2 separate regions of the Homo sapiens genome follow, and region 1 is linked to region 2. Evidence: fine-mapped expression QTL. A gene starts in region 2. The other region holds a variant in brackets. All regions are shown on one strand. Distances are between the middles of the regions.

What was found.
Region 1: its variant is fine-mapped to the expression of REM2 in whole blood (TOPMed, PIP 0.92).

The regions. Positions count from the first base shown.
Region 1 is chr14:22,976,300-22,992,014 of GRCh38, forward strand. It overlaps AJUBA (ajuba LIM protein), which reads right to left and starts at 6,252. Exons shown (of 8, transcript NM_032876.6): 1 at 4,962-6,252; 2 at 2,045-2,146; 3 at 346-413; 4 at 157-219. The coding sequence starts at 5,967. C14orf93 (chromosome 14 open reading frame 93) reads right to left here. Exons shown (of 7, transcript NM_021944.4): 4 at 13,767-13,828; 5 at 13,443-13,546; 6 at 11,604-11,716; 7 at 9,595-11,335. The coding sequence ends at 10,916. AJUBA-DT (AJUBA divergent transcript) reads left to right here and starts at 8,025. Exons shown (of 3, transcript XR_007064074.1): 1 at 8,025-8,521; 2 at 13,450-13,907. It overlaps LOC124903287 (a long non-coding RNA gene), which reads left to right and starts at 1,528. Exons shown (of 2, transcript XR_007064076.1): 1 at 1,528-1,802; 2 at 2,351-2,922. RefSeq lists enhancers at 1,401-1,695, 5,301-6,266, 6,267-7,232 and a silencer at 10,432-10,541. The variant G/A (reference allele first, on the strand shown) is at 6,204.
Region 2 is chr14:22,875,979-22,891,693 of GRCh38, forward strand. It overlaps REM2 (RRAD and GEM like GTPase 2), which reads left to right and starts at 7,244. Exons shown (of 5, transcript NM_173527.3): 1 at 7,244-7,412; 2 at 8,696-9,037; 3 at 9,288-9,361; 4 at 10,046-10,253; 5 at 10,636-11,700. The coding sequence starts at 7,310. The coding sequence ends at 10,931. LRP10 (LDL receptor related protein 10) reads left to right here. Exons shown (of 7, transcript NM_014045.5): 5 at 1-394; 6 at 711-840; 7 at 962-5,735. The coding sequence ends at 1,549. RefSeq lists enhancers at 6,957-7,495, 7,496-8,033, 12,360-12,459 and silencers at 10,490-10,559, 10,800-11,129.

The DNA.
Region 1 (15,715 bases), 100 kb after region 2:
AGCCACTGTAAACAGTTGCTCTGGGGAGGAATGGGATGAAAGTGATTCATCTGGTGACAGGCTTCTTTCCCCAACCTTCTCTCAATATCCATTTAGTCCCTGATCCCGCTCCTCAGCCTCACAGTGAGACTTCTCAGCTGAAAGCACTTTACTTACCTTCTCCAAAATCAAGTGACCACAGACACAGCATTTCTCAGCTGCCTCCTGAAACCCTGAAAACTAAAGTAAAAGACAAGACGAACGGAGGCTGTTATCAAACTGAGAATGATGGGTGGTACTCCAATGGGCCACCAAGAAGGGGGTCAGTATGGAAACCAATTCCAGGTCCAGGTGACCCTTACTCACCAGATAATCTTCCTCACAGTACACAGAGCCATTGACACTGTAGAAAGCCTTGCAACGCAAAGTTCGCCCTAGAAACAATAGAGAAGGGGCTGGAACCTATCCCACAGCCCAGGTGCAAGACTTCTGGGGTCACTGCTCCCCGCTGCTGCATAATATATTTAAACCTGGACTTTGTGCTTTTCCTCCTAACTGCTGTCTGTCCTTCCCCGCACAAAAATTCCATCTGATGCAATTCCAATTTGCTTTGGCTTCATTCCAGCCAACTTCCCCTCTCCTCTGCTTGCTGCTCCTCCAGCTCCTGCCTCCTTAACAGTTTTCTAGGGCCCCTCCCCTAAACAAACTGCCTTCCTCTCCAGTGCATAGGAAGCCACCTGGGAGAGTAAAGCCAACTACGTGCTGGAATACGTGAGCTCTTAATAAGGTGCTATATGATTTGCATAGAGAGAACCACATTGTTAACAGGCCTTTCCCTCTGGGACCCTTCAACCTAGAAGCCTCTTTGCCTGAGCATATCTATCCTGCTCTCAAATGCCTGTCTCCTTCCAGGGACAGACTCCATGGAGGTCAGGACTGGAGTTACTGCAGAAGGACAAAGTGCTTTGTTTGGAAGCAAAGCAGGTCCCCTCTCCTGTTTGTATAAGGCTGCTTCCCTAAGCTTAGAGGGACCCAGAGTCACTGGGGTAAGAGACAACCCAGGATCTTCTTCCAGCAGACAAGGCAGGACAATTCCCCATGTGACCAACCCCCAGGAACTGCTCCCAGGTGTCTACATTATCAGGGATAGGGAAGGAGTGAGAACAGGTGGAGCATGAGCAATTTTCCCACCTTTGCCTTCTTCCCCTCAAAATCCCTACTTCCAACTCTGTCCAGTGGGTTAGGAAAGCTGACTTAGAAGCTCATGAGACACAGGGGAGGAAAGATAGGGAAAGAGATATAGCCAGAAGAGGCCCTGTAAACAGAAGGATAGACAGACAGATGAGCCTAAAGAGAACCAGGCAGAAACTGGGGGAGTGAGAAAAGCTGAGTGCTGAAGTCAGACAGGCAGAGATAGGAGATTAAAGGTTTAGCAAAGGAATCAGAATGGGTAAGCAGTAAGGAGGGGGTAATGAGGGAGGGGAGGGGGGCAGTTAAGGCCGCTGGGAGCATCCCCCCTTTCCAAGTGGGCCTCCTGAGCTAACAGTGGCAGGCATTCCTGGAGCGTGATGTCATCAGCTTGGCATGGCCCGGTGGCCTGCACTCCAGTGAGGTGGCTGAACTCTGACCAGCCAAGAGAAAACCCCCCTCTCCGCCCCAAACAGCTCCCCACTCCCCCAGCCTGCCCCCACCCTCCCCACATTCCAGTCTTTCACTGTCGCCCCAGGCAACTTGGCTGCCCAAGACCAAGCCCCACCAAGAAGCTGGAGGGCCAGGCAAGTCCAGGATGGGCAAGCAGGGAAGCACGAGAGGGAGAAACAGAGGTGAGGAAGGAAGGAGGGACTCCAGAAAGGGGACCCACCAGGCGGAGGGAGAGCCAAGTAGAGGACAGACAGGGAAGCAAGAGAGGCAGAGCAGCTGCGGACCTCCAGACACTTGGTGGGGATCCAACAGCTGCTCTGTGAGCAAATGAAGAGGCACAAGCTCTCCTCCTGTTCCCCATAGCACTTGTAAGTGTGTATGTGGGCAGGGGAGGGGAGTGCTTGAGTATTGGGGCTACACTCACCACAAGAGCAGCAAACAAAGCACTGGGTGTGGTAGAGGCTGTCCAGGGCCTGGCAGGCATTGCTCTGCCCATAGATGCCTTTGTTGCACTTGATACAGGTGCCTGAGAAGAGAAAAGTGTCACACTCTACTCCCCCAGGTCAAAACCAGGGATTCCCAAGCTTTCCTGACTGCCCTTTCCTGATGTGCCAGGGGTCACAGTCTCCCTTTGATGGGCTCCCTTCTGAGTAGAGAAGATAACGAGTAATGAGATGCAGCAAGATCTTGGCTGAGCAGATCCATTCTTGTTTATTTAATTACTCAACAGATATTTTCTGAGCATCTGTTTTGTGCTTAACACAGCACCACTACCTAAGGAAACCTGGAGAAAGTCGAAGATATGGTCCCTGGCATTCAGATGCTTAGTTTCTGTTGGGGAGAAAAGACTACACAGGCAAGGTATGATCTCTGTTGCAGTGTGTAGGATGAACGGTCAAAGATGCCAGTCCACAGGTGCTCAGCAGCAGACTTGAAAATACTTTCTAGAGAAAGCAGGCTAGGCCCAGAAATCGTCTCTGGGACTTCAGTTTCCCATCAGTCAAACGAGCTGTTCAGTTATAGAATGATTTCTCTCCACTGCAGACTTCCAAGGATGGAGAAAAGGATCTGGCTTGGCAGAGGGCTCCGTGCAGAGGGGACCATGTGAGCATGATTCCTGTGGGGAGGTGGCTGCTGAGAATGCAGGGTGTGTTCCAGGAACCAGGGTTGAACAGGAAAGCAGGGAGAGTAGCAGAGCCCCTGATGCCTCCTAGTCACCTTCTATCATGGGAAGAATACAGAACTGAACTGCTTGCTATTCCCCAAAATCCCCCACTAAGATATATACACCTGGCTCTGGGACTTGCCTTTCCTGGGTGTGTTCTTCCCTCCCTCCACTCCCCAATTCCAGGCCCATGAGTGAGGGCTAGGGCCTGTCTTTGGGGAGCAGATCCCAACGGGCCTGCCCCACCTCTCCCCCTCGGCACGCTGCCACACTCCCTGCCTGTTGGGGCCCATCCCAGTCTTTGCCCAGGGGCTTGGGAGCCTGTGCAGCAGCTGCAGCAACTGATGGGCCCAGGCCTGTCCTGCTCCCACCCTCTGGCAGCTGGGCAAGGCTGAAGCCAAGGAAGAGGGCCCCTACTAGGGGCAGGAGGAGGGTACAGTCAAGCTGGGGCTAGCGGCACAAGGGGTATGTAGGGGTTCTGTCAAAGGAGGCAACCTGACTCCCAAGGAGAAGGGGCCCCCATCTCTGAATTCAAAATGTGGCTTCCTCATGGAAGTGAAGATCTGCCCCAAGATTGCCATGCCAGGGGGTCCTGTCGGAGCCATTCTTTAGGAAACCTTGGACGTTATGGGAAAAGCAAACGAAACTGCTCAGGCACGTTGGCCTCACCTCCTCTAACCCAGCATATCTATACCTATGTTCTTCCTGCCATTTTATTGCAGTTTCTCTGAGTTCCTTTCTTCCTTTTGGCTCTGATGGTTCAGCCAAAAAGACTTCTTTACTAGCCACCTCTCCTGGGCCTCAAAATGAAACTGCTAAATGGGCCCTGTCATTCAGTCTTCCTTGATCAAAGCGGTTTGGCATCATCTCCTCTGGGCTTTCCTCTCGGTGGATTTGGAGGTGGGGAAAAGAATGGGGGTGGAGGCTGGGGGTTGAGTTATGCCCTTATAGCCTGCCGCCCTGCTACCTCTGAACCTCCTACCCAACCATCCCTCCCTGGCCGCGTTCCTCTTCCTATTCACTTTTCTAGCCATAGAGTTCTACAGCATGGGGTCCAGGAGTGGGGCATGAGTGGTAAGAAGAGATGCTTAGAAAAGTGAAAGAGGCCCACAGCCCTTAGGCGGTAAGCCTGCCACTTCTTTCCAATCACAATCAGATTCGAAGTTTTTTATGTGTGTAGCAGTGCCTGTGAATTTTGACTAAAAGATCTTTCAAGACCCTAATGTTCCTCATAGCTGAGACATATAATCAATCAATACTTCCTGAACAGAGTAGGGGAGGGAGACAGCGACCAGGTTTCCTTAACAGTGTCAGGAAGTAAGGCGCTACTTCTGGCCTGAATTCTGAGAGGTTATAAGCAGAATTCAAGGCCAAGTTATTTCTGGCAATAACACAGGGTCGTTATCCATCCAGAGGTAATGGTGTCCCAGTAGTCATGACTTTTACCCTGACTTCCGGAGGATGGGGAAAATAGAAGCTGGTACTACTGGGTCTCTGATTAAATGCCCACGCACGCACCTAGCCAACAGGACTGGGGAGGGACAGCAGTTGGGTCCCAGGGCGCTCCATCCTGTCTCCCAGGCTCCATTTCCCCGACAGCCGCCACTACTCCGCGTATGCTAGGGAGCGTCCCCCGATCCCCGAACCCCACCCCTCCGCCGCGCGGCGGCAGCCGCCCCGCCCGCGGGCACCTGGAGCGCCCGGGCAGGAGTCGGCACGCACGCGGCCAGCCTGCCCCGCCCCCCCACCCGCGCATTCTCCGAATTCCTGCGGGCGGAGCCTGGGCCCGGGTGGGGGCGCGGCGCGCACAAACCTCCAGGGGCACCGCCGTGAAAGGGGGGAGCAAGTTGGGGGGGATGCGCCTTCACTGCCCCACTTGGTCCCTTCCCTACGAGGCCTCCTGCCGCAAAAAACCGAGGTTCAAATGCTTGAGAAACGGACTCACGAGATACCAGGGGGGTTGAATTTAGCAGAAATAAGGAGCCCTGGTTCATCTGAAAACTAGCAGGAAGGGGACAGTGCTCTGGGGCCGCCCCCATCCATCCCTCTTGCTTCTTTCCTAGTCCCGCGTCTTCACCTCGGACCCCGGGGCACCGGCACTTTGGGCCGTCGGGGCAGTGGAGAACCGAATACCGTGACGGGTCCCTTCCCGTCCCTAACCACTTCTCTCACTCACCGAAGTAGTCCTCCCTGGCCTCTGGCTCCCGCATCCGGGCCCGGGCGGCCTCCGGAACGAAAGGACCTGGTGGCTCCTCCAGACCCGACGGCTCAATCCCCGAGGGTTCTCCGCGGGCTCCGGCTTCTCGCCCACCGGTGCCCACCGTCAGGCGAAGCAAAGCTGTTAGCTCGTCCTGGTACCGGGCGCCCACGGCGCAGTCCCCGTAGCCGGTCACAGAGTGTCGTCCGGGTTGCGCCCCCCGTCTCTCCAAGGGCCCCGCCGCTCCCACTCCGGCCCCGGCTAGAGCTCCAGGGCTGCCCAGGGCCGGGGGATACGAGTGGCGGCTTTCCTGGCAGCCGAACCCCGCGGGCCGCTGAGCGTACAATCGGTCCAGGGCGGCGTGGAGCTCCGGGTAGGCGGACGGGACCCCTCCGGGAGAATAGCCTGCCGGTGCTCCGGCCAGGGGTGGGCCAAACAGGCACGGCCCCGCTGGCAAGGGGCTCCCGTGGCGCTGGTCGTAGCCCATGCTGATGCCGCTGGTGCGATTGCTGCAGGGCCGGCTACCTCCAGCTCCGCCAGCCCCCGCCCCGTCCAGCAGCAGGCTGCCCCGGGGGCTGGACGGCTTGCTCGCGTCGCTGGCCGAGCTACTGGCGAAGCTAGAGCGGGGGCTGAGGGCCGGGGCCGTGGGCTCCAGCCGAAAATCGGGGGGCAACGACTGAGGTAGAGGCAAGGCCCGGGTGGGCGGCGGCCCCGCGGGAAAAGAGCCTTCGTAGCGCGGCGCCTCAAAGGAGCCGCGCTGATTTCGCTCAGCGTCCAGGGAACCTTGCTCCCGGGCCGGCTCCAACGGCTCATCCCCAGGTCCCCCAGTAGCTCCTCGGGGCCCTGACTTCCTAGGTCCCCCCAACCCACTTAGGCGCCCCTTGCCCGGCCCGGGGGTCCCGTCAGACCCAGACCGGCTAGATTCACCCTTTCTGCGGCCGAACTTCTCCAGCAGGCGACTGGCTTTCTCTCCTAACCGCTCCATGCCCTCGGGCCTGGGGCCTCTCGCCCCCTCCCCGCCTGGCACCCTGCGGCGTCTCGGCGGCCGGTTCTCTTTCCCTGCAGCCGGACTCTGGTTCCCCAGGGGCACAGGGGAGGCACAGGGGCTTAGCGGGCGGCCTGGATGCCCTGCGCCAGGAATCCCACAGCATCCCCCAGCGGGAGGGGCTGCGTCCCCCCGCGCATCTGGGGCTGAGCGGGGCTAGCAGGGTCTCTGGCCGC[G/A]GCTGTCCAGTCCGCAGGTCTATCTGTTCACGCGTCGACTCGCCCGACTGCCCCACTCTCCCCGGCCCCCGCCCCCCTAGCTCTCACGCTAGCCACAGACCGAACTTCTCTCCCAAACTTTTGTCTGCCTGGCCGGATCTACTTTCCTAGGGGGGCGGAGCGCGGTGTGTGCGAGAGCGCCGGGGGTGTCCGCGCAGGGATAGCTGGTGTGCGTGCAGCGGAAGGCGCTAACTGCCCTGGATGTGGAGACCCGCGGACTGGACGTGAGAGGCGGGCAGGGGCAGTTGGGGCAGCTGCCCCTACAACACTGAAGAATTGGAATAGGAAAGAGTGTGGGGGTAGGGGACGGGGACTCTTTGTCTGCAGTTGGAATGCGCGGAGGGGCATGGTGGAATGTGTCGCGTCCCGGGACCGGACGACAGGAGGCATGTTCTGCGCTAGCACCGTGACTTTGTTCCCAGCGTGGGGACTGTGGGAGAGATGGAGAGAGACTGGTACAGAAATGGTGAGACAAGGAGAGAGCCATAAAGAGGAAGACAGAGAGAAAGAAGACAAATGCATAAAGAGGTTCAGAGACGTGTACGTAAAGATAGCCCTGAAAGGCGACGAAGCCCACAGAGAGAGGTGGAAGAGGGAAGAGGTAGCGAAAGAAAGGGAGAGCTGAGGAGCAAAGAGGAGTGTGGACGATGCAGAGACCGAAGGGTGCGCAGACAAAGGAAAGGACAAGCTTGTCCAGAGAGAATGAGAGACAAACAGATAAACTGCAATAAAAAGGCACCACCTTCTGGACCCAAAAGTTTTGTGATTTGTAAAAGCAGTGAAAAGGAGTCAGGAAAATGGGACTAATCTCTACTTTGAGAGGGAGGGAAAGAGATATAGTGTGTATGTAGAAGCAGTGAAAAGGAGTGAGGAAAAGGTTTGGGACTAATCTCTACCTTAAGGGTAGGACAGTTAGAGGGATAGACACCCCCTGGTGTTGGGAAATGAGATTTTTCTCATTTCAGGTGACTGTGGAGATCGAAGGCCTGGTTTTAGGGCTAGCGAACACCTTCTCCCTTTGGTTTTGGTCCACAGAAGACTGGTGATACAGAGTAAGTATTAAGAGGAAGAAAAGAAATGCCGTGTAGAGGAAATTGCAAATGAAAATGATCAGGATGGAAAAGAGGCTGATATTGACTATTTTAAAAGGATCAAGAATAAGGAAAAGAAACCCTGGCTGAAGCAGCCGGGCGCGGTGGCTCACGCCTGTAATCCCACCACTTTGGGAGGCTGAGGCGGGCGGATCACTTGAAGTCAAGAGTTCAGACCAGCCTGGCCAACATGGTGAAGCCCTATCTCTACTAAAAATACAAAAATTAGCCAGGCGTGGTGGCGCACGCCTATAGTCCCAGCCACTCGAGAGGCTGAGGCGGGAGAATCGCTTGAACCCGGGAGACAGAGGTTGCAGTGAGCCAATATCACGGCCACTGCACTCCAGCCTGGGCGACAGAGCAAGACTCCGTCTCAAAAAAATTCTCAAAAATAAATAATAATTTTTTTTAAAGAAACCCTAGATGAAGCTAAACATACCTAATTAAATACCAGCCAACGGCCGGGAGCGGTGGCTCACGCCTGTAATCCCAGCACTTTGGAAGGCAGAGGCGGCGGGATCACGAGGTCAGGAGTTTGCAACCAGCCTGGCCAGTATGGTGAAACCCCGTCTCTACTAAGAATACAAAAATTAGCCGGTGTGGTGGCGTGCACCTGTAGTCCCAGCTACTTGGGAGGCTGAGGCAGAAGAATCGCGTGAACCCAGGAGGCGGAGGTTGCAGAGAGCCGAGATTGTGCCATTGCACTCAGGCCTGGGCGATAGAGGGAGATTCCGTCTCAAAAAAATTTTTTAAAAACCAGCCAACTACTTTTGCCCAGACTAAAACATCAGGGGCAAGGGGTGGAGGAAGTAGAATGGAGAAGGAAAATGACTCCTTTGTATTTAGATAGTAAATGAGTATGAAAATTATATGCAAACAAGTCATGCATATTATTTTCATCTCAACATTTTGAACACCTTTTATAATCTTAGTGTAGCCTTAGGGAATGTGGAAAGAAACGAGGTTAATATCTTTTGGGAAATTAATTTGTGCCAAACTATTTGGCTTCTTCGTCCTAGTTGCATTGTCTCCCTGACCTCATCTCCCCTGAGAATCAGCCTCTGTTTCCCTGGTCAAGGCCACGGCTTTTCTCTGATCCTGAGGAGAGTTTCCTACCAGAGTGGAAGCAGGGAGGACTGAAAGCACTAGGAACAGAGGGGAGCTATCGGATTGCATCTAGAACCTGCTGTGAGCAACATCTTCAGAATTAACCATAATGTGTTCCCTCCTTTCCTGTGTCCAGATGAGGAAGGAGAACTTTGATTCTTCCTTCCAATTACATCCAAAATATCCACACAACTACTAATATTTGGAAGCTTTGATCCTTTGGGGTGAGGATGCGAGAGGAAATCTTATGAAATGTTGGGAGGCCATTAAAGGAGGCCCATGCAAGAGTTGGTGGTAGCAATGGGCACAACTGGGATGAACAGCCTGTGTTTTCAAGGGATAACTGGAAGCAGAGATGAGTGAAGGGGAAGAAGTAGAAGACGCATATGCTAATAGGGCATGCTCCAATAGTGCTCATGACCTCAGGTGGCCTCTCCACAGTCTAAACTGGAGCTGGGATCTCCAAAGGCCCTCTTCGTTCCCAAGACTTTAATTATAATCTGTATATGCAGGTGACTCCCTAATCCATATTTCCAGCCCAGTCTTTCTTGGAATTAAAAACTCAACTAACTACTAGCATCTCCAATGGCTGTCTCAGAAGCACCCAATATCCTAAACTGATCTCATCTTCTCTGCCTCATGAAACTGGCTCCTCTAACATTCTCTGAGTAAATGGCACAATCCTGTTAGCTGCTTAAACTAGAAATCTGAGCGTCAACCCTATGTCCTCCTTCTCCCTTAACCTCAAATCCAACCAAGTCCTATCAATCACCAAGTTCTATTAATTCTGCTTCCTAAACATCTTCCAAATCTGTCCTCCCCTCATCACCACTATATATGTCAAGTCACCGTCTTTCCTCTCCGAAACCAATGCAAAAGTCTCCTGGCCAAGGCTTGCTCCCTGCAATCCATCTTATACCCTGAGGTCAAGTGATTTTTTTCAGTACAGAAGCTTTACGACTTACAATGGAGTTATGTCTGAATAAACCCATCCATTATAAATTGAAAATATCGTAAGGCAGAAGTGCTTCTTCAACTTCACCATATTTTCAGCTTAAAATGGGTTTATCTGATATAACTGCATCATAAGGTGAGGAGCATACTGAATCATTTCGCACCATCGTAAAGTTGAAAAATCCTAAGTCGAACCATCGTTGAGTTGGGGACTGCCTGTAGGCAAAACCTGTCGTTTTATTTCCCTGCTAAAACAAACTTTCAATGATTTCTCACTGCCCTTGGGTTGAAGTCTGTACTCTGTATTATGAGGTCTGTCTCACTCTCCAGCCTCTCCTCTAGCATTATCCCTTCCCCAAAAGTCTGCAGTAGAACTGGACCTTGTCTGTACTCTCTCTTGCCCCTGGACTTTTGTACCTGCAGTTCCCTGTTTGGAACACTCTCTTAGCCTCCCCTTTCCTTCTGGTTAACTCTTCCCCAGTTTAGACATTACACCCTCTCAGAAGAAGCCTTTCCAGACTGCAAGAGTAGGTTAGCTACCCCTGCTGTATATTGCCATAGTGCACTACACTCCACCATGGTCACCCTTATCACAGTTCATTTCATTGCCTACTCCACTGCCTGGCTTCCTGACTAAACTAAAAAAATCTCTGAACAGCATCCAACCTTATCAACAATGTATCCATAGCACAGTACCTGACACCTAGTAAAGCGATCAATGTTTGTTATAAGACTGAATAAATGTAAAGCCATTTTTGCTTTTCAATCCATCCAAAATGCACACCCCTTCCTCAAAATACAGCTTGGCTGACAGGACCAAGAAACAGCTACAAAGCTGTGTATTTTGCTTGGTCACATAGTGAGAGAGAGGCTGCCGGTGAGACACGGGAACTCTTTAAGCCTTAATTTCCTCATCTGTAAGATAGGAATAGTAAAATTTTCCTCATGTAATTCAATAAACAATAGCTATTATATCAGGAACCCAATTCCCCAATAGTGATAGAACTTGTGTTCCCTTGGTCAGAAGACTCAAGCTCATGACTGAAACTGCCCACCAGGTGGCGGTATTAACCTGCACTGGTCATGTTCGGTTTCCACTGCAGAGCAAGACAAGTAGTCACAGGGAAGCAAAAGGTACAACCTGGGCTGCTTCCTCAGAGCTTTGGGTGGAACTGGGCAGGGGCAGAAACAACTCAGAGACAGGGCATATGTCAAGAAGGCCTCATGTTTCTTGGACCCATCCTCCTCATTTTCTCATCCCAGGCTTCTCCGAGATACTGTTTATGCTGAGGAATAAGCATATTCTGGCTTACTGTTCACAGTGGAGGGAGTTTCTCCCCTTCTAGATAAGTTTTTATCCCACCAGTGTTCTGCTTCCCCAGTAGAGACTGTGTTAAGAAAAGAGGCAAATTTGCTTTCTCAGACTGCACAGAGCATCTCATTATTTTGTGAAGCCCCATGGCCACCTATTTCTGAGACATGGGGCATGGCGGAAGCCAGAGTTATTCTTGGCTGTAGATTTTATTCATCCTTTTCCACCTTGATTTCAATGAATGAGTTCAAGTCAGGACAGCAGGTTTTGTGGGGTTGGTCAAAAGATGGGGAGCCAGGTGCATTCTCATCCCCTCCCTCATCTTCCTCTTCTTGGAAATTAGGATTGTAAAGTTCTGGTGGAAGGAGCTGGGCTTCAGCAGAAGGCAGTCTGTCTGAGGGAGGCCCATACACACGGTTGGCTTTGGTGCCATGCTTAGAGTTAGCATCCAGGTGGTAGCAGAGCTCTGTGAGGCGCTGGGCCCGGAAACGGGGAGGGCGGGCCACCCACACACCTGGCTCGTTAAGACTGTCCTCTTCATCTGACATCAGTTCCTCTGTCACATCATTCCACAGACGTTGGTCCTCAGGTCCAAAATGCCTCATGATACTGGATCGGTTGGCAAAAAGCTAAGGCAGGAACCCAGGAGATAGATTAGGAAGGTAAACATTCTATGGATTAGATTTGGGGAAAAGGTTTGGTGGGGAAGGCTGTGTAAAATCTGTGCCTAAGTGAACCCAGTCCCCAAGTCAGATCTTAGCATTGGCTCACTGTTCTTCTCTATCTTCCTACATTCCTGGCTCTCAACCCTATTCTCATATGCCATGTCCTCTGGCCCTTCCCACTTAGGAAAGGGTTTAGAGTTTAGTATCTTGAAAGAAAGGCCTAGAAACCTACCCGATATCGGCGACTTCGAAGTTTCTTCTCCTCTTTTTCCTTCAGGCCTTTAAAGGGGTTCAGGGAGTTGCGGTACTCACGCCTCTTAGTAAGGAAGTAGGCCACACAGGCTCCTGGCGGGGAGGGAAGGAAGGGAGCAAGAAGGAGGGTCCTCTGAGTAGTGGTCCCCAGCCCGTTTTTCTGCCCTAACACTATTGAATGGGAGGTTGGCGATCACTACTTAGATGAGGGCTTTTTTTTTTTTTTTTGAGATGTAGTTTCACTCTTGTTGCCCAGGCTGGAGTGCAATGGCACAATCTCGGCTTACCACAACCTCCGCCTCCTGGGTTCAAGCGATTCTCCTGCCTCAGCCTCCCGAGTAGCTGGGATTACAGGCATGTGCCACCACATCCAGCTCTTTTTAGTAGAGATGGGGTTTCTCCATGTTGGTCAGGCTGGTCTCAAACTACTGACCTCAGGTGATCCACCTGCCTTGGCCTCCCAAAGAGCTGGGATTACAGGCGTGAGCAGCCGTGCCTGGCCTAGATGCTGGGCTTTCTTGGCATAGGCATTAGCATCTTCACTCCTCTTTGGTTAGGATTCTTTTTATTTATTTATTTTATTATGATTTTGTTATGAGACAGGGTCTCGCTCTGTCACCCAGGCTTGAGGGCAGTGGCATGGTCATGCATGCTCACTGCAGCCTCCAACTCCTGGGCTTAAGTGATCGTCCAGCCTCAGCCTCCTGAGCAGCTGGGACTACAGGTGCACATCACCATGGCCGGCTAATTGGTTTAGCTTTCTTTGCCCACCTCCATCTCCAACACTAACTCCTCCCAAATATCTCCCACTGGAAAAAGACAACTCCAATCGCTTCTGTGTCTCCCCGCTCCCTCCACCAAATAAAACCTACCCCTTCTTGGGCGTGGTGGCTCACACCTGTAATCCCAACATTCTGGGAGGCCTCCTGCTGAGGCAGGAGGATTGCTTGAGCCCAGGAGTTTGAGACCAGCCTGGGCAACATAGTGAGACTCAGTCTCTATTTAAAAAAAAATTTAAAAACAACAACAATCTACCCCTATTGCCACTCTGATGGAAGATTACAAGTATTTTTTTATTTTTCGTTGAAACAAGGTTTGCCCACAGTGGAGTTCAGTGACACGATCTTGGCTCAATGCAACCTCCACCTCGCAGGCTCAAGCAATCCTCCCACCTCAGCCTCCCAAGTAGCTGGGACTACGTCATGCATGCCACCCCACCCAGTTAATTTTTGTTATTTTTGTTTGTTTTTGGTAAAGATTGGGTTTCGCCATGTTGCCCATGCTAGTCTCGAACTCCTGGACTGAAATAATCCTCCTGCCCTGGCTTCCCAAAGTGCTAGGATTACAGGGATGAGCCACGTTACCTGGCTCTACAAGTACTTTTTCAGCAGAAGCTTTCATAATACTTCAGGGTTAGCTACAAATAACAAAAGAGAGCAAGGAAAGAGAAAGCCTGGGAAATAATATTTAGGGACCAAGGGGCAGGCCTGGCTTCTGAACATAACACCTCCTCATAACACCTTAGATTCCTCCTCCTCGTAACACCTTAGGTGCAAGACCTGCATAAACAGAATGCATGATGCTGTTCTAGCCCTTTCCTTCTCTCATTTTCGTTTCAGACTGAGAGGGAAATAAACAGGCAATTTGAGATAATTCTATGAATATATTGAAGGTGAGAATAGCCAAAAAATGTTTCAAATCCACTATTTTCAAAACCACCTAATCATCTCTATTATTCCTCTTCTCCTCTGACCAAGAAAGAGGAGTGGGAGGAGAGGGGGAGAAAGGATGGCATAGGAGTTAAACCAGTTTTTCTCACCTTTTAGCTCCTTATCAGTGTAATTGTGGGGACTGGTCACCAGCTCTTGCTTGAGCTTTTCCAGAAGAAACTTCACTACTGAAATATTCCAAGAGGACTTGATGCTGCCACAAAGAGAAGAGAATGAATAAAGTTGTCGGCTTTGTAAGAGCCAGACAAACAGAGATACCCAGCACTAATCAACTTTGTGGCAAATCCCTCCACAGCCTAAGAAGGTATGGTGAGATCAAAGCCTTAGTCTCATTGCTGTATTGGAGCATCCCCCTCTACTTCCCTGTCCTTAGCAAAGTACCTTCTAATTCTTTTTCCTCAAGGAGACCATACCTTTCAGACCCATTGAATCTCTTGTCATTGGTGATGTGGTTATGCACATTGTGGACCAGTTTCTAGGAGGAAAAAAAGAAAACACAATCAAGCCAAGAGTGGATGTTATGAAAACTCTCCTCTGGTCCCTAGGGTAAAAAGGTATTGTCCCTAAGGGGCTCTCTGCCTGAATCCTTTCTAAGCCAAGAGCCTATCCAAGTTACTATTTCTAGTGTGGTCTTCCCTGACTTTTCATTTCATGTGTGTCAGGATTCCAGGATCATCCCTGGCCTTACTTCTGCTCCTGAGTAGTGTGATCACTGGAGCAGAGGGTCTCAAACATTTCCATGAACATACCCCTGATAGCAACGAGAAAGCAAGTATACACCAGGAGTACTGCGAGTGAACATTTCTTTTTTACTTTTCTTTCTTTTTTTTTTTTTGAGATGGAGTCTTGCTCTGTCGCCCAGGCTAGAGTGCAGTGGCGCGATCTCGGCTCACTGCAACCTCTGCCTCCCGGGTTCAAGCGATTCTCCCGCCTCAGCCTCTCGAGTAGCTCAGAGTACGGGCACCTGCCATCATGCCTGGCTAATTTTTGTATTTTTGTAGAGACGGGGTTTCACCATGTTGGCCAGGCTGGTCTTAAACTCCTGATCTCAGGTGATCTGCCCGCCTTGACCTTCCAAAGTGGTGGGATTACAGGCATGAGCCACCACGCCCAGCCAAGTGAACATTTCCTGAAGTCCCCTTCTCTTGCACTTTTTTTTCTTTCCTTTTCTTTTTTTTTTTTTTGAGACGGAGTCTCGTTATGTCGCCCAGGCTGGAGTGCAGTGGCACGATCTTGGCTCACTGCAAGCTCTGCCTCTCGGGTTCACGCCATTCTCCTCCCTCAGCTTCCTGAGTAGCTGGGACTACAGGTGCCTGCCACCACGTCCGGCTAATTTTTTGTATTTTTAGTAGAGACGGGGTTTCACCGTGTTAGCCAGGATGGTCACAATCTCCTGACCTCATGATCTGCCCGCCTCGGCCTCCCAAAGTGCTGGGATTACAGGTGTAAGCCACTGCGCCCGGCCCCTACTCTTGCACATTTAAATTTTTTCTTCAAAATGTATTTGTATTTCTTTTCTTTTTTTTTTTCTTTCTGAGACAGAGTTTCACTCTGTCACCCAGGCTGGAGTGCACTCATTAAAAAGTTTTGCCAGCCGGGCGCGGTGGCTCATGCCTGTAATCCCAGTACTTTGGGAGGCCAAGGCAGGTGGTGCCATCTCAGCTCACTGCATCCTCCGCCTCCCGGGTTCAAGCAATTCTCCTGCCTCAGCCTCCTGAGTAGCTGGGACTACAGGTGCACCACCACCACATCCAGCTAATTTTTGTATTTTTAGTAGAGATGGGGTTTCACCATGTTGGTCAGGCTGGTCTCGAACTCCTAACCTTGTGATCTACCCACCTCAGCCTCCCAAAGTGTGCTGGGATTACAGGTGTGAGCCACCGCACCGGGCCTGTTTAATATAAAAATGTCTTCTGCAATTTTTCTTTTTTCTTTTTGAGACAGAGTCTCACTCTGTTGCCAGGCTGGAGTGCAATGGCGGGATCTCGGCTCACTGCAACCTCCACCTCCCGGGTTCAAGCAATTCTCCTGCCTCAGCCTCCCGAGTAGCTGGGACTACAGGTGCACCACCACCACATCCAGCTAATTTTTGTATTTTTAGTAGAGATGGGGTTTCACCATGTTGGCCAGGATGGTCTTGATCTCTTGACCTCGTGAACCACCTGCCTCAGCCTCCCAAAGTGCTGGGATTACAGGCATGAGCCACCGTGCCTGGCCATCTTCTGGAATCTGCTAGTAAAACTGATGACCCAGGCAAAAGCCCCGGGTTTGTCTGTGGCTTTATGTATTTCTTCATGTGTTACCACAAATCTCTGGAGTATATACACCATGGTCTGAAAAACAGAAATCTAAAATAACAGAA
Region 2 (15,715 bases):
GTGCTGACGGCACAGATGAGGAGGACTGCCCAGGCTGCCCACCTGGACACTTCCCCTGTGGGGCTGCTGGCACCTCTGGTGCCACAGCCTGCTACCTGCCTGCTGACCGCTGCAACTACCAGACTTTCTGTGCTGATGGAGCAGATGAGAGACGCTGTCGGCATTGCCAGCCTGGCAATTTCCGATGCCGGGACGAGAAGTGCGTGTATGAGACGTGGGTGTGCGATGGGCAGCCAGACTGTGCGGACGGCAGTGATGAGTGGGACTGCTCCTATGTTCTGCCCCGCAAGGTCATTACAGCTGCAGTCATTGGCAGCCTAGTGTGCGGCCTGCTCCTGGTCATCGCCCTGGGCTGCACCTGCAAGCTCTATGCCATTCGCACCCAGGAGTACAGGTCAGTGGGAGTGGGGCTGGCAGTAGAAGAGTAGACCCTGAGGGTGAGGCTGGGCTGTGCAGCTACAGGAGACCACGAAAGTGCCCACCTTGGGGAGAGGCTCCCATGATCAGCTTGTCAGTTGTGTCCTGTAAGGGACAGGTCCAGATCCTGAAAGCAGTTTCAAGGGAGGAGGGACCTCAGATGACCTTTGGGAAAGCCATGGCACAGCTCCAGCTGGCCTGGCCCGGGTGTGGAAGTGGGAGGACTGTCCAGGCTGAGGTGGTCTACTCTGGCCGAGAACTACCAGTGACTGAGCAGTCCTCATTCCTTCTAGCATCTTTGCCCCCCTCTCCCGGATGGAGGCTGAGATTGTGCAGCAGCAGGCACCCCCTTCCTACGGGCAGCTCATTGCCCAGGGTGCCATCCCACCTGTAGAAGACTTTCCTACAGAGAATCCTAATGATGTAAGTCACTCCCCACAACCCTAGCACCTCCTGGTCCCAGTTCTGCTGTGGCCCCGCCCCTGTACCCTCCTTCATTCAGCCTTTGGCCCTCTGACTCTGAGGCCTCCTCATTTCCTTGCAGAACTCAGTGCTGGGCAACCTGCGTTCTCTGCTACAGATCTTACGCCAGGATATGACTCCAGGAGGTGGCCCAGGTGCCCGCCGTCGTCAGCGGGGCCGCTTGATGCGACGCCTGGTACGCCGTCTCCGCCGCTGGGGCTTGCTCCCTCGAACCAACACCCCGGCTCGGGCCTCTGAGGCCAGATCCCAGGTCACACCTTCTGCTGCTCCCCTTGAGGCCCTAGATGGTGGCACAGGTCCAGCCCGTGAGGGCGGGGCAGTGGGTGGGCAAGATGGGGAGCAGGCACCCCCACTGCCCATCAAGGCTCCCCTCCCATCTGCTAGCACGTCTCCAGCCCCCACTACTGTCCCTGAAGCCCCAGGGCCACTGCCCTCACTGCCCCTAGAGCCATCACTATTGTCTGGAGTGGTGCAGGCCCTGCGAGGCCGCCTGTTGCCCAGCCTGGGGCCCCCAGGACCAACCCGGAGCCCCCCTGGACCCCACACAGCAGTCCTGGCCCTGGAAGATGAGGACGATGTGCTACTGGTGCCACTGGCTGAGCCGGGGGTGTGGGTAGCTGAGGCAGAGGATGAGCCACTGCTTACCTGAGGGGACCTGGGGGCTCTACTGAGGCCTCTCCCCTGGGGGCTCTACTCATAGTGGCACAACCTTTTAGAGGTGGGTCAGCCTCCCCTCCACCACTTCCTTCCCTGTCCCTGGATTTCAGGGACTTGGTGGGCCTCCCGTTGACCCTATGTAGCTGCTATAAAGTTAAGTGTCCCTCAGGCAGGGAGAGGGCTCACAGAGTCTCCTCTGTACGTGGCCATGGCCAGACACCCCAGTCCCTTCACCACCACCTGCTCCCCACGCCACCACCATTTGGGTGGCTGTTTTTAAAAAGTAAAGTTCTTAGAGGATCATAGGTCTGGACACTCCATCCTTGCCAAACCTCTACCCAAAAGTGGCCTTAAGCACCGGAATGCCAATTAACTAGAGACCCTCCAGCCCCCAAGGGGAGGATTTGGGCAGAACCTGAGGTTTTGCCATCCACAATCCCTCCTACAGGGCCTGGCTCACAAAAAGAGTGCAACAAATGCTTCTATTCCATAGCTACGGCATTGCTCAGTAAGTTGAGGTCAAAAATAAAGGAATCATACATCTCAAAATTTTGCAAATTAGCTGCGAGCCTGAGCCCCGCCTCTGCCCATCTCAGTCTATGCTCACCTCATCCCACTCCTCCCTGTGGAGCCCTTTGCTTGGCCCTCTACCTCCTGCCCTCTTCCTGTTCATCTCCCAACCACTGCACTCTTGATTTTTATACCACACAGAAGGTAAGAAAATTCTAGGAACCCTAAGGATCAATCCTCTCCATTTTCACTCAAATGCCTGGGGCCCAGCTCTGCAATGACTGACTCCAGGGCCTCTTTCCTCACTGCCAGCATAGAAGTCAGGGGAGCCAGCTGGGCCCTGCGGTCAGGAAGGTTCTCATTTTTGGAGCATACCCTGAGCCCAGATCATAGGAGCAGCTGTCCCTGGTGGGACACAGGAGTCATGACTCCTACCCTCCACCCTCCACACCCACCAGGCATTTAGCAGTCTGTCCTATGCAAGACAGATGAATTCTCAGCCAGGATACCTCAAGGCAGGCAAAGGTGAGTGGAGGGAGAATTCACAAACATTCAGGGTGTGTGGTGCTGGCATCACCATGGCCAAATCCAAGAGGTCTTCCTGGAAGAGGGCCCAAACTGGAACCAAAAGAATGCTGTCAGCAGTTGGAATAGAGCTGTGAATTCTAGACAGGGGGAGTGTCCCCAGAACAAGCAAACGGAGGAGACAAGAGGGCAAGGGTTATAGGAAAGACCCTGGGCCTGAGAGCACAAGCAGCGGCCAGAGCTGCAGCGCTGGGGTGGGTGATGGAGGGAATGATTCGCAAGCAGTGTTGGAACCCAGCCCCTAGTGAGCAAAGTGACAGAAGCTGCCCCAGAGTTTGGAAGGAAGATCGAGGCAGAAGATGTAGAAGGAAGCTGTGGGGGTGGGAGTGATGCCTCAGGAACAAAACTGAGGAATTCCCTAACGGACCCAGTCCCTGGGGAAAGAGGCTCCCCTCAGGCTCTCCTTGTCTAGCCCCACACCTGGCAGAGCCTGTCACCCAGCCTAGCCCCACGCCTGGCAGAGCCCATCACCCAGCCTAGCCCCACACCTGGTGGAGAGGCCCTGTTGATTACACCCTGTCAGCCTCCTCAAACCCAGCACTAATTGCACAATTTTCCTCTCTTCTAGTGAGCAAGAGCCTGAGGAAGTAGCAGAGAGGGGTGTGGGCCCATGTGCAGTTCTGGGACCCTGGCACCTTGGCTCAGGGAAGACCCGAGCTCCTTTCACTGCAGACCCTCTCCAGAGACTGGGGAGAGGGCTCTGGAGAACCTGGTTCTTGCTTACTGTTCTCCCTTTGGGCCCTCCTTCCCAAACGCAAACAATCCAGGATCCACTCAGCGTCAGGCCCAATGGAAATAGTGAAGCAGTGATTTTCCCTCCCCTGCCTCTCCATAGCCTGGTCTTTTGCCCTCTCCTTTGCTCTTCTCTTCCCCCATAGCCACCTCAAATACCTGCAGCCTGATATCTTCATCCCTTCATCCAGACCTTTTCTCTCCTAGTGGTATTGCAAACTGAAAGTGGACAAAGACTTAAGGTAAACCTGCTCCTCATGGTGGAATGCTTCCAAATGCTGGAAGGAGGACTTTAGGGCAGAGTTCACTAAGGAGGCTTGTGCTTATAGATCAGTGGGCCTGAAAGAAGTTTCTCTAGGTTCTGGTTGTGTGCTGTACGAGGTGTAGGTAGTAATAATACTCTTGTCAGCCACAGTGAAGCCCCAAGCTAGCCGGGATAGGGGACTGACCTTGTACAGGCAGCATGGAGAAACTAAGACAGAGTGTCCTGCCCAAGTGATGGCACTGGGGAGCAGTCACTCAGGTTTATTTCCACCAGGGCCCAAGAAAAAAAGAAATGAGGCAACCTAAAATTCCATCAAGATAGATACCAATATCCAAGGTGCTTGGTCTTAGCGGTGTGGGACCCACGTTAAGGCTCTTGGTGGGAAGGTGGGAGGTGTTTTCAGCATGAGATAGGGTTCAGGCTGTGAATCAGAGTCTAGAGCCTAAGATAAAAGAAGATACCAGGGCTGGGCCACGGTGGCTTTCGCCTGTAATCCTAGCACTTTGGGAGGCCAAGGCAGGCAGACTGCCTGAGCTCAGGAGTTCGAGACTAGCCTGAGCAACACGGTGAAACCCTGTCTCTACTAAAATACAAAAAAGTAGCCAGGTGTGGCGGCATGCACCTGTAGTCCCAGCTACTCGAGAGGCTGAGGCAGGAGAATTGCTTGAACCCGGGAGGCGGAGGTTGCAGTGAGTGGAGATCGCGCCACTGCACTCTAGCCTGGGTGACAGAGCGAGACTCCTTCTCCAAAAAAAAAGAAAAGAAGATACCAGAACTCAGTCCTTAAGAAACAAAATTCTGCCAGGCGCAGTAGCTCACACCTGTAATCCCAGCACTTTGGAGGGGCCAAGGCAGGCGGATCGCTTGAGGCCAAGAGTTCAAGAACAGCCTGGGCAACATGATGAAACCCTGTCTCTACCAAAAATACTAAAAATTAGCCAGTCTCACAACCTGGTCTCAAAATAAATAAATAGATTTAAAAAAAAAATCATGGGCCTGAACCAAGCTCCAGACCTCACTAGGAGGGGAGAAGGACCCCCCAGCCACACAGCCCAAGGCTGCAGAAGCACCTAGGTGGTTAGAGAGTGAGTGCCTGGATGGGGCGCAGTGGCTCACACCTGTAATCCCAGCACTTTGGGAGGCCGAGGCAGGCGGATCACGAGGTCAAGAGATCAAGACCATCCTGGCCAACATGGTGACACCGTGTCTCTACTAAAAATACAAAAATAAGCTGGGCATGGTGGTGCGTGCCTGTAGTCCCATCTACTCGGGAGGCTGAAGCAGGAGAATCACTTGAACCTGGGAGGCAAAGGTTGCAGTGAGCTGAGATCGCGCCACTGCACTCCAGCCTGGCAACAGAGCGAGACAAGACTCCATCTCAAAAAAAAAAGTGAGTGCCCGATGATGCCAGATTCTTCATCACCTGAAGTGAACCCACACAACAGGGCTGGGCCATGGGCATCATAAACCCCATTTTGCAAGCTCAGGAGGAGCTTTAGGGAAATCAGAAGACTGGCCCAGTCTCTACCAAGTGGTGGATTTAGAGCCGGCATGGCTTCGTTCCAAATCTCACCCTTGTCCCACCATTCCATGGGACCTCCCATTCCTGAGGGAGCCTGGATACGGGCAAGTGCACAACCCGGGAGGTTGAGGTTACAGTGAGCCATGATCGCACCACTGCAGTCCAGCCCGAGCAATAGGGTGAGACCCTCCCTCTGAAAAAAATAAAAATACTCATTTTGGAAGGAAGTCATTCTAAAATGTTACACTTGTCTTCAGCATATCTGCAATATAATAATTTTCTGCATAACTGAGGATCATTCACAGAAACCAATGGCTTTTCTCCAGCAGTGTCTTCTGAAGTTGTAACAGTAGGGGCACGGGGAGCTATTTGCTTTTATGCTAAATGACCTTAGACCACTTATAAAATGCATATGAGTGCTTTAAATGTTATTTTGTGTGTGTGTGGTGTTGCCTCCCTGACTACAAGGGGTCACTTGCTACTCTAAATGTGTTTCTAATCTACTAGTACAGGAACACACATGGACACGTTAAAATTGTGAATAAAAGTAAGTAAAAAGTAAAAGTAAGTAGGCCATGACTGAGGACTGGAGAATCTACCCAGTGAGTAAAGCACAGGAGTATTTTAGCAGCTGAGGGGTCCTTTCTGCTCCCTCAAACCCTGCACTGTTGCCCTATAGCTGACCTCCAAATAAGTGAAGTGTCACTGCACATTGTTCCCAAGATTATTCTTTGCCTCTTCCATTGGAAGAGTCCACTGAGGATAGCAATATAGACTGTTCCCAATAATAGGAGACAGTTGGAATATTTAAGAGAAGGAAAGCTGCACAATGTAGAAATGAAAAATCCTTGGCACTGGAAAGATGTGGGTGGGATTCCTGGTGTTCCCATTTTCCAGCTGCAAGATTGCTTTAGGGACGGGGCACCCACCTACCACTGTGGGCCTTGGGCTCAAGAAGATGAAAGGAGATAATGCAAGAAAGTACTTAGCACAGCATCTGGCAAAAACGGGGCAAGGAAAGGAAATCGGAACGTGTGTCTGGGAGCTTAAGGGTGTCAGGAAGGAGGACAAGAAGGAAAGGGGCAGGAGAAGGAACCTGAAGGGAAAGGGAACTGGGCAGAAAAAGAACGGTAAAAGAGATGTGCTATCTGGGCTTCCTACAAACAGGCAGACATCACCCATTGCGTACCTGCCTTGCATAGCCCAGAAGGCCTGGCAGCTGCACCAAAAAAACATTAACAGTGGGTAGGGGAGTTGGGGGGTAGCTGGCACTCCCCCTTCCCCACCCACTTAAGATTGGGAACCTCGTGTTTGAGATAGCTAGCTTTGTCTCACCCTTTTTTCCTGCTCTGATTATCGTTAGCTTGGTGGGCCTGGCAGGGAGAGAAGGTGGAAGAGTCTCCACAGTGGTTTGCCCCTACCTGAACTTAGTGGCAAAATGAAGCTGCCCAAATGAAGCAGCTGAATTTCCTTCCTCAGAGCCCGCATCTGCCTAGGGGCTGGGAAATGAGTACTTTCGTGGCTCTTAGCCCAGAAGAGGCAGGGTGGAGAAGGAAAAGGTGGCAGGGTGGCTGACCCTCAGTCCCCACACCTCTTTTGGCCTGCATCTCTTTGTCTTTCAGACCAGCTTTTAATCTTTCTGCCTCTTGCCCCTGTGCAGCCACTGAGCACGCTCTCTGGGCTAGACACTGGGCTAGGGGTCTGGAAATACAAAGACAAATGATGCGTAGTCCTGGCTGCTGGAGAAAGACCTTCACCTCCCCAGGTCCCTGCCTTCTGTCACCCTGAGCTCCCTTACCCACTGACACCCCCTGCAACCCTTGTCTGTTCTGCCCCTTGACTGTTCTGTCATAACTCAACCAAGCTCTGCAGTGTGTGTGCTCCCAGAGAGAAGCGACACAAAGAAAAGGGAGGGGGGGCAGAAAGGAGGGAATCCCGCTGACATCACTGCTCATTAGCATGTGTGACCTCATCAGGGGGTGGGACAATTTCCCCAGGTGTCTAGGGGGGAGGGCATGTGTGTGTGTCGGGGGGGGGGGTGGTATTTAAAGGGAAAAGCTGACAGTGCTGCTGAGTGAGGGAGAGGGTGCTGCGAGCTGCTGGGCTGCACACGCACACGCACACGCACACGCACACTGATGCACACGGACCTGGACACAGACATGGACATGGACACAGAAACCACAGCACTCTGCCCCTCTGGCAGCCGCCGGGCCTCCCCTCCAGGGACGCCCACACCAGGTGAGGGCTAACCTGGGCAGGTTCCGGCTGAAACCATGGGGGTGGGAGCTGAAGCTTTGGTGGGGAGGTCAGAACTAGGGGTTGAGGGAGCTTGAGCTCAGTCAGCAAGAGGAGAAGAGCAATTGAGAAAGTGGAGAAGACCCCTGCTCACACAAGGGATTGGGGCTGGGCTAGGGTGGAGGGGAAGAGCTGCCTAAATGCCCCCTCCCCCAGCACTCCCAGGGCTTTGCTTGAGAAACTGGTACATGGCCCCTAGCTCAGCCTCATTCCCGAGGCTGGAACAGGCAAGAAGGAAGGGGAGAGGAAAGGGGCAGCCCACAAGCCTGGGAATCACAGGCAGGGGCTACCCCGGGGAACTATTGTAAGGGTTCTTCTGGCTGCTGGAGGCCCTGGCTGCTGGCCAAGTATTGATCCTGGGCTATTTCCAGCCTCCCTCTAGCCCCCTTTGTTGTGTCTGTTGTTCCTCCTCCAGTTACCCTGACCCACGCATTGTCACTCTCCCTTTCGCTCACACACACACACACACACACACACTATCTCTCTCTCTCTACTTCTACTGCTCTATGAACACAATATTCTCTCCCACTCACAGGGACAGACAGGGATGCAGGATTCTCACATCCAACCACGCAATGAGGGATGCTCACCTACAGGGCCACGGGAAGCAGCAGCCCCTCTCTCTCTCTCACACACACACACAGAGAACCCACAGAGACCCAGCACGCACATCATCTCAAAAAGCAAAGGCCCTTTCCTAGGAAGAAGCTCACTACAAAGTTTTTTACTCTGCTATACCTACTCCCCAGACACTGGGCAGCAGTTTCAGCTTGTCATCCTCTCTGCTCCTCAGTTTGGGGATTACCAGTGCTGGAAACAGGAGGAGGAAGGGCCTCTTGATGGAAAAAGAGGCAGCTTCCCCAAACCTCCCCCAACTCCACCGTACAGGGCCAGAGGCCTAGTCTGGGGGTTTGCCTGTGTATCAGTGTAAAGTGTGAGTGGGTATGTGAGCCTGCATTCAGGTCCCTTCCCTGCATGGGGCACGTTTTGAATAGGTTGGGGTTGGGACCGCATTGGAGAAGCTATCATGTCAACTCCAGTTCAGGCTTCTGGAGACTTTAGTGTAAGAGGTCAGGCCAGACATTCTCAGTTCCTTCTGGGTAATGGTCATCAAGTGGGTGTAGCTGGGCCTCTGATACTGGAACAGCCTGGATTGAGCCTTCTGCATATGGTTGAGCATATCCCACTCATAGCTTCCTTTTCTTTGCCCTCCCATTTTATTTTAGAAGCAGATGCCACGCTACTAAAGAAGTCAGAGAAACTGTTGGCAGAGTTGGACCGGAGCGGGTTACCCTCTGCCCCTGGGGCCCCCAGACGAAGAGGCAGTATGCCTGTCCCCTACAAGCACCAGCTCCGGCGGGCCCAGGCTGTAGATGAACTTGACTGGCCACCTCAGGCCTCATCCTCTGGCTCGTCTGACTCCTTGGGCTCAGGGGAGGCAGCCCCTGCTCAAAAGGATGGCATCTTCAAGGTCATGCTAGTGGGGGAGAGCGGCGTGGGCAAGAGCACCCTAGCAGGCACTTTTGGTGGTCTCCAGGGAGACAGTGCTCACGAACCGGAGAACCCAGGTATTTGGGGAAGCCCTCCAGGGGTTGAGGGGGCTCTGGGGCCCTGGTCAGGGAAGGAAGTGCTCGTGACCTGAGCAGCCCCTGAAGGACAGAGCTTAACAGAAGCTTTTCCAATGCTTTCTGTGGCAGCCTCCCTGAAGAGGGGCAGGGTTCCCTGGTGCTGAGATCTGAGGTGTCCCTGGTTACCAGGTCTCACAAATGTTGGGAAACCTCCTAATGGACTTTATACCCTCTCCCTATTTCCCAGCAGAGGATACCTATGAGAGACGCATCATGGTGGATAAGGAGGAAGTGACTCTAGTCGTTTATGACATCTGGGAACAGGTGAGAACTAAGATGTGGCTGCAGGCAGGTGATGAAGCTGGGAGAACTGGGGAAGGGCAAAGTCTGGCTGAAGGCTGGTGGGACTGCTGGTCCTGGTTTCCACATGTACTGGAACCTGACCTTTCATTCATATCACCTCAGAAAGCAAAGACCCACACTACAGCCTGTGGCTGTTAAGACCCACAGTCTTTCCAGGATCTTCTGACTCAGAGCAAACTTAGGATGGGAATTTGACAAACCCTGCAGCTCCAAGCTAGGCTGGACACCCTGAAATTGACTCCATCCATAAATTTTTCAGCCTGAAGGAATCTGATGTGACAAGACAAGAGCTCAGGGATCTGGAATATCAGGGAAGGGGGAAAAAAGTGAGGACTTCTGAATATTTGGACATAAAGGTTACTATGTAGAAATAAGAGGCCAAATTACAGACGTGTGAATAATATTCATTTTTGAATCAAGAGCTTAAGAAATTAGGATGGCTACCCTAGTCTAGGATCCTCATATTACTAATTTCTTCCGCCTCCACAAACACTCTGGGTAGGGAGATTCTGCCATTAACTAGCTCTGCTGTCCTAAGCAGGTGGCTTCTTTCTGCCTCACAGCCCTGTTCCTCCTCTTTGAGGTGTAGGTGCTGGACAGGATCTCCTATGCCTCCAGCCCTAACGTTCCTCTGCCTGTCTGCAGGGGGATGCAGGAGGGTGGCTGCGGGACCACTGCCTTCAGACCGGGGACGCCTTTCTCATCGTCTTCTCAGTCACCGACCGACGGAGTTTCTCCAAAGTTCCAGAGACCCTACTTCGGCTCCGGGCTGGGAGGCCGCACCACGACCTACCCGTTATCCTCGTTGGAAACAAGAGCGACTTGGCCCGCTCCCGGGAGGTATCACTGGAGGGTGTGTATCCTGAACAGATTCCATACTTGCGATCTCAGGGGAATGCTCTCCCTTCCAAGTCACCTCTTCTCCCTAAGGCCTTTTTACCATCGCGGACGCACTCACTTGCAATCAGACCCAGGCTAGGGGGACACTCCCAATGCCCCACTCGAGGATCCTGAGAATCCCTTCTTGTCACTTCCCCTCACCTCTCTCCTAGGCCTCCTTCTCCCTCTCCTTCGCACCTCCACAGACCCACCATATGAGCTCAGCCATGTTCTCTCGGTTGCAAGATTCACTAGTACCAATCCCTTGCCACCGCACGCCCAGGCCCTCCCTAGACCCACCCTCGCCCCGGGTCCCGTACAGCCCAGCGGGCGCCTGAGCCGGTGCCTTCCTGCAGAGGGCCGCCACCTGGCCGGGACGCTGAGCTGCAAGCACATCGAGACGTCGGCCGCACTGCACCACAACACGAGGGAGCTCTTCGAGGGCGCGGTGCGCCAGATCCGGCTGCGGCGGGGCCGAAACCACGCCGGAGGCCAGAGGCCCGATCCGGGCAGCCCCGAGGGCCCTGCGCCACCTGCACGCCGCGAGAGCCTCACCAAGAAAGCCAAGAGGTTCCTCGCCAACCTGGTGCCGCGCAACGCCAAGTTCTTCAAGCAGCGCTCCAGGTCGTGTCACGACCTCTCGGTGCTCTGAGCCGCGGTCGCCATGGCCACTGCGGTCGCCATGGTCACCGCGCCCTCCGCTCGCCCCCCCTCGCCCCGCCCCGCCCCCGTCCGGCTTCCTTGGTGGAGGCCGTCTAGGAAACCAAAAACTCCCAGGATGCCCCGGTGTGACCGCCGGGGGCGGCCCGGGGCCGCTCGGCGGCACCTCCACACCCGCCCCAACGCGTTCTCTGGAGCTTTGGGCCTCAGGGCGCCTAGAAGGCGAGGACGCAGACCTGAAGGCGGCCGGTGAGCGGGGCGGGTTCTGCTGGGTCGGGAAGAAAAATAATTCTGCAAGGTATTTTGTTTTTTATTAATTCGCGCTTGGCCACCTCATCTGTAAAGAGATTCTAAAAGCAAGATCTGGAAAAGTGCTTCGTAGACTCCTTGACGGAGTTTGCCTCCTTTGTACGCTGCGTGAACATGCCTCACCTTTAAGAGAGTCTTAAAGGTAAAGACACGAAAACACTTCCTCCAGGGACCTTCCCGAAAACGTTCTGGCTCTCATCTGGTGCGGCATGTGTCCACTTTGCCTTTAAGGAGTTCTTAAAGGCAAGGGCCTGGAAGTGCTGTTCCTGAGATGGATTCTCTTGACTTACCAGTCCACCACGGCACTTCCCCTTTAAGGTTATTAAAGGTAAGGGGTGGACAGACTTTCTGCATTCAGATAATGAGCAGTGGCAACCCCTTTTGGCCAGGGCCAGGGGGGCACCAGCAAGGGGCCACCCTTTCCCTTTTCAATAAATAATTTTTGTACTGCCTCTGTTCACTTTTGACTCTGTTCTTGGAGTCTTTGGGGAAGGAATGGGTGTTGATGGAAACTGCTGTTACCCACCAGAAAACTCAGGCCCAGAGGAGCAAGGAACCTAACTCTCTAAGGAGGCTCTGGAACTGACTTGGCCTGGGGTAGTCCATGTCATAGGGCCACAGGCCCTTACAGATAATCAGGTCCACTTCTTGCGTTTGCCGATGAGAAAACAGGCTTGGAGAGGAACAGGGACCTCCTAGAAGTCATTTGTAAATTAGTGACACAGTGGGACCAAATCTCTAGATTCTGAGCCTCATCTCCTTACCCCCACTCTATCCTGCAGGGAACAGGCTAGAGGCTACACTTAGCTCCCAGCGGTACTCAGCTTTGACTTGGGCTGGTTCAAAGTGGGGCCCATATCCACCAGGGAAGCCCATCAGCTGTGGCGTGATGGGGGTCTGTCTGTGCCTCCTCTGGCAGGGCTCCACAGCCCCAGCTGTCACCTGCAAAGCCCGTGTGAGTACTGAAACTGTCACTGCCTCCCCTGGGGACGCCCACGCCTGCTGCTGCCTGAGCCATGAGTTTGAACAAAGGGAGCAGAGGCAGCAGCTCCCCTCACCACCCCTAGACATACAATACAGCTACCTGAGCACCTGAGGGCCAGCCTCCATTCTACCCCACACAGCCTCCCAGAACTTGATGGAAAGAGGGTTGCAATGCTTCCTGAGTCCTTGTAGCTGGGGAGGAGCCAAGGGGACCATCCCAGCATGGGTACTTATAATAAGATGAATAATGGCCCTATCCTTAGGACTTTATACACTTTATCTGTTAATTCCTTAAAGACTATATAAGGTCCAGCCTGGGAAACATAGTGAGAGCCAGTTTCTACAAAAAAAAATATAAAAATTGGCCAGGCATGTGGCTCACACCTGTAATCCCAGCACTTTGGGAGGCTGAGGCAGGAGGATCATTTCAGTTCAGAAGTTTGAAACCAGCCTGGGCAACATGGCAAAACCCTGTCTTTACAAAAAATTAGCTGGGTGTGGTGTCATTCAGATAGTCCCAGCTACTTGAGAGGCTGAGCTGGGAGGAACCCTTGAGCCAGGAAGTTAAGGCTGCAGTGAGCTGTGATTGTACCACTGCACTGCAGCACGGGCAACAGAGCAAGACCCTGTCAAAAAAAAAAAAAAAAAAAAAAAAAAAAAAAGCAGTGCACCTGTAGTCCTAGCTACTCAGGAAGTGGGAGGATTACTTGAGCCCAGGAGTTCAAGGCTGAAGTGAGCTGCAATCACTGCCTTCCAGCCTGGGTGATAGAACGAGAACTTGTCTCTTTAAAAAAAAAAAAAAAAGGGCCGGGCGCCATGGCTCACACCTGTAATCCCAGCACTTTGGGAGGCCAAGGTGGGTGGATCACAAGGTCAGGAGTTCGAGACCAAGCTGGCCAATATGGTGAAACCCCATCTCTACTAAAAAGTGCAAAAATTAGCTGGGCGTGGTGGCAGGCGCCTGTAATCCCAGCTACTAGGGAGGCTGAGGCAGGAAAATAGCTTGAACCCAGAAGGCAGAGGTTGCAGTGAGCTGAGAACGTGCCACTGCACTCCAGCCTGGGCGACAGAGTGAGACTCCATCTCAAAAAACAAACAAGCAAAAAAAAAAAACCTATATAAGGTGTTACTACCTGTTTAACAGTAGAAGAAACAGAGTGTAAGTAACTTGCCTGAGGTTACCCGGTAAGCAGTAGAGTTGGGATTTCATGTCTGCTTGATACTTTTTTTTTTTTTTTGAGATGGAGTCTTGCTCTTGTCACGCAGGCTGGAGTGCAATGGTGCGATCTCCACTCACTGCAACCTCCACCCCCCGGGTTCAAGTGATTCTTCTGCCTCAGCCTCCCGAGTAGCTGGGATTACAGGCACCCACCACCACGCCCAGCTAATTTTTTGTATTTTTAGTAGAGATGGAGTTTCACCATGTTGACCAGACTGGTCTTGAACTGCTGACTTCAGGTGATCCACCCACCTCAGCCTTCCAAAGTGCTGGGATTATAGGCGTGAGCCACCGCGCCCAGCTCTGCTTGATACTTAATGATGATTTTATCCAGCTTTGCATCTGAGGCTCCCTTTCCAATAAGGATGGGAGGAAGAGAAAGAGGGGACAGCAGTCAAGATGCGGGGACACAATGGGCAGGGCCATGTGCAGTGGCTGTGGTGAAAGGTCCAGAGAAATTACATGGCTGTAGTGGAGTAAGCAAGTTCTAAATTCTGAAGACCATGAACAGAGGCAGCTCAAATTTTAAAACACAGGAAAACACACTGGGCCCATTAAGGGACCAGATGGCTGTACAGTTGGGTTGAAACCTCAGGGACATGAAGAGGAGGGGTAAGAGATGAGCATGGAAAAGAAGGTTTGGAGTCCCACTGTAAAGGACCTTAAATGCCAGGAAAAAGAGTTTGTGCCCAACTCTGTAGGCAGGGAGAGTCACTGCAGGTATCTGAATGTGGAAGTCATGATTAGGATGGTCTTTTGGGAAGAGGAGGCTGGGAGAGGTGTGTATGGATTGGAGCTGCAGAGGCAAGTACTGAGGAGCTGAGTTTAGGGACCAGTTAATAGTGATACATACAGAGGATAATGAAAGGCCATCCTGAGGGGGGTGGCAGTGGGAAAGGAAGGAGGCATGGGTTTGAGCATCAGAATCAATGGGACTTGGCAACTTAGTGGATGAGTATAAAGAGAGGAAAAAGTTGTAGGTGGTGAGAGGATGGTGCAGAACTTGGAGTAAAGGGGCAGAGGAGGTAGTGAGAGTAAGGAGCTCCATTTTGGAGACACTGAATTTGAGATGCTAGAAGAACATCTATATAGAGTTTCAGCAGCTCTCTAGAGTTGAATCTGAATCTGAAATTCAGAACAAGTTGGGACAAGAGAAACAGATTTGAGAATAATTACCATAAAGATAGTAGTAGAAGAGCAAGGAGAAAAGGTGACCTGTGCAGTCACATAGGGCCCTAAGCTTAGTTTAATGTTCTGCTGTTATGTTCTTAAAATTCTTCGAACAAGGAGCCCTGTATTTTCATTTTGCAAGGGGATCCACAATTATACTAAGGGAGAAGGTGCAGTACAGGCTGGGATCCTTACCCCAGACTACTGATGGAGTCTGCGTCTTGTGAAATGGTACATACAATCTGATGTATTTGTGTAGTCATACCTGTGTCTGAGAATAGGGTTCATGAATTTCATCAGATTCACAAAAGGGTTTGTTACAGGCCAGGCACAGGATGGCTCATGCCTGTAATCCCAGCACTTTGAGAGGCCGAGGCGGGTAGATCACCTGAGGTCAGGAGTTCGAGACCAGCCTGGCCAACATGACGAAACCCCATCTCTACTAAAAATACAAAAATTAGCTGGGCATGGTGGCACATGCCTGTAATCCCAGCTACTTGGGAGGCTGAGGCAGGAGAATTGTTTGAACCCAGGAGGTGGAGGTTGCAGTGAGCCGAGATCGTGCCACTGTACTCCAGCCTGGGCAACAGAGTGAGATTCTGTCAAAAAAAAAAAAAAAAAAAAAAAAGATGGTACTGGCTGCTTCTGGAAAGGGGAACTGGGTGAGTAGAAGACCAGGATGGGAAGCTGACTTTTCATTGTATGCCCTTTTTCTTTTCTTTTCTTTTCTTTTTTGAGACGGAGTTTCACTCTTGTTGCCCAGGCTGGAGTGCAATGGCACGATCTCACTGTAACCTCCGCCTCCTGGGTTCAAGCGATTCTCCTGCCTCAGCCTCCCGAGTAGCTGGGATTACAGGCATGTGCCACCACACCCGGCCACTTTTGTATTTTTGGTAGAGATGGGGTTTCTCCATGTTGGTCAGGCTGGTCTCAAACTCCCAACCTCAGGTGATCCGCCTGCCTCAGCCTCCCAAAGTGCTGAGATTACAGGCCTGAGCCACCGCGTCCAGCCTGTATGCCCTTTTTCTACCTTTGGAAATTTTTTTTTTTTTTTTTGAGACAGAGTCTTGCTCTGTTGCCCAGGCTGGAGTGCA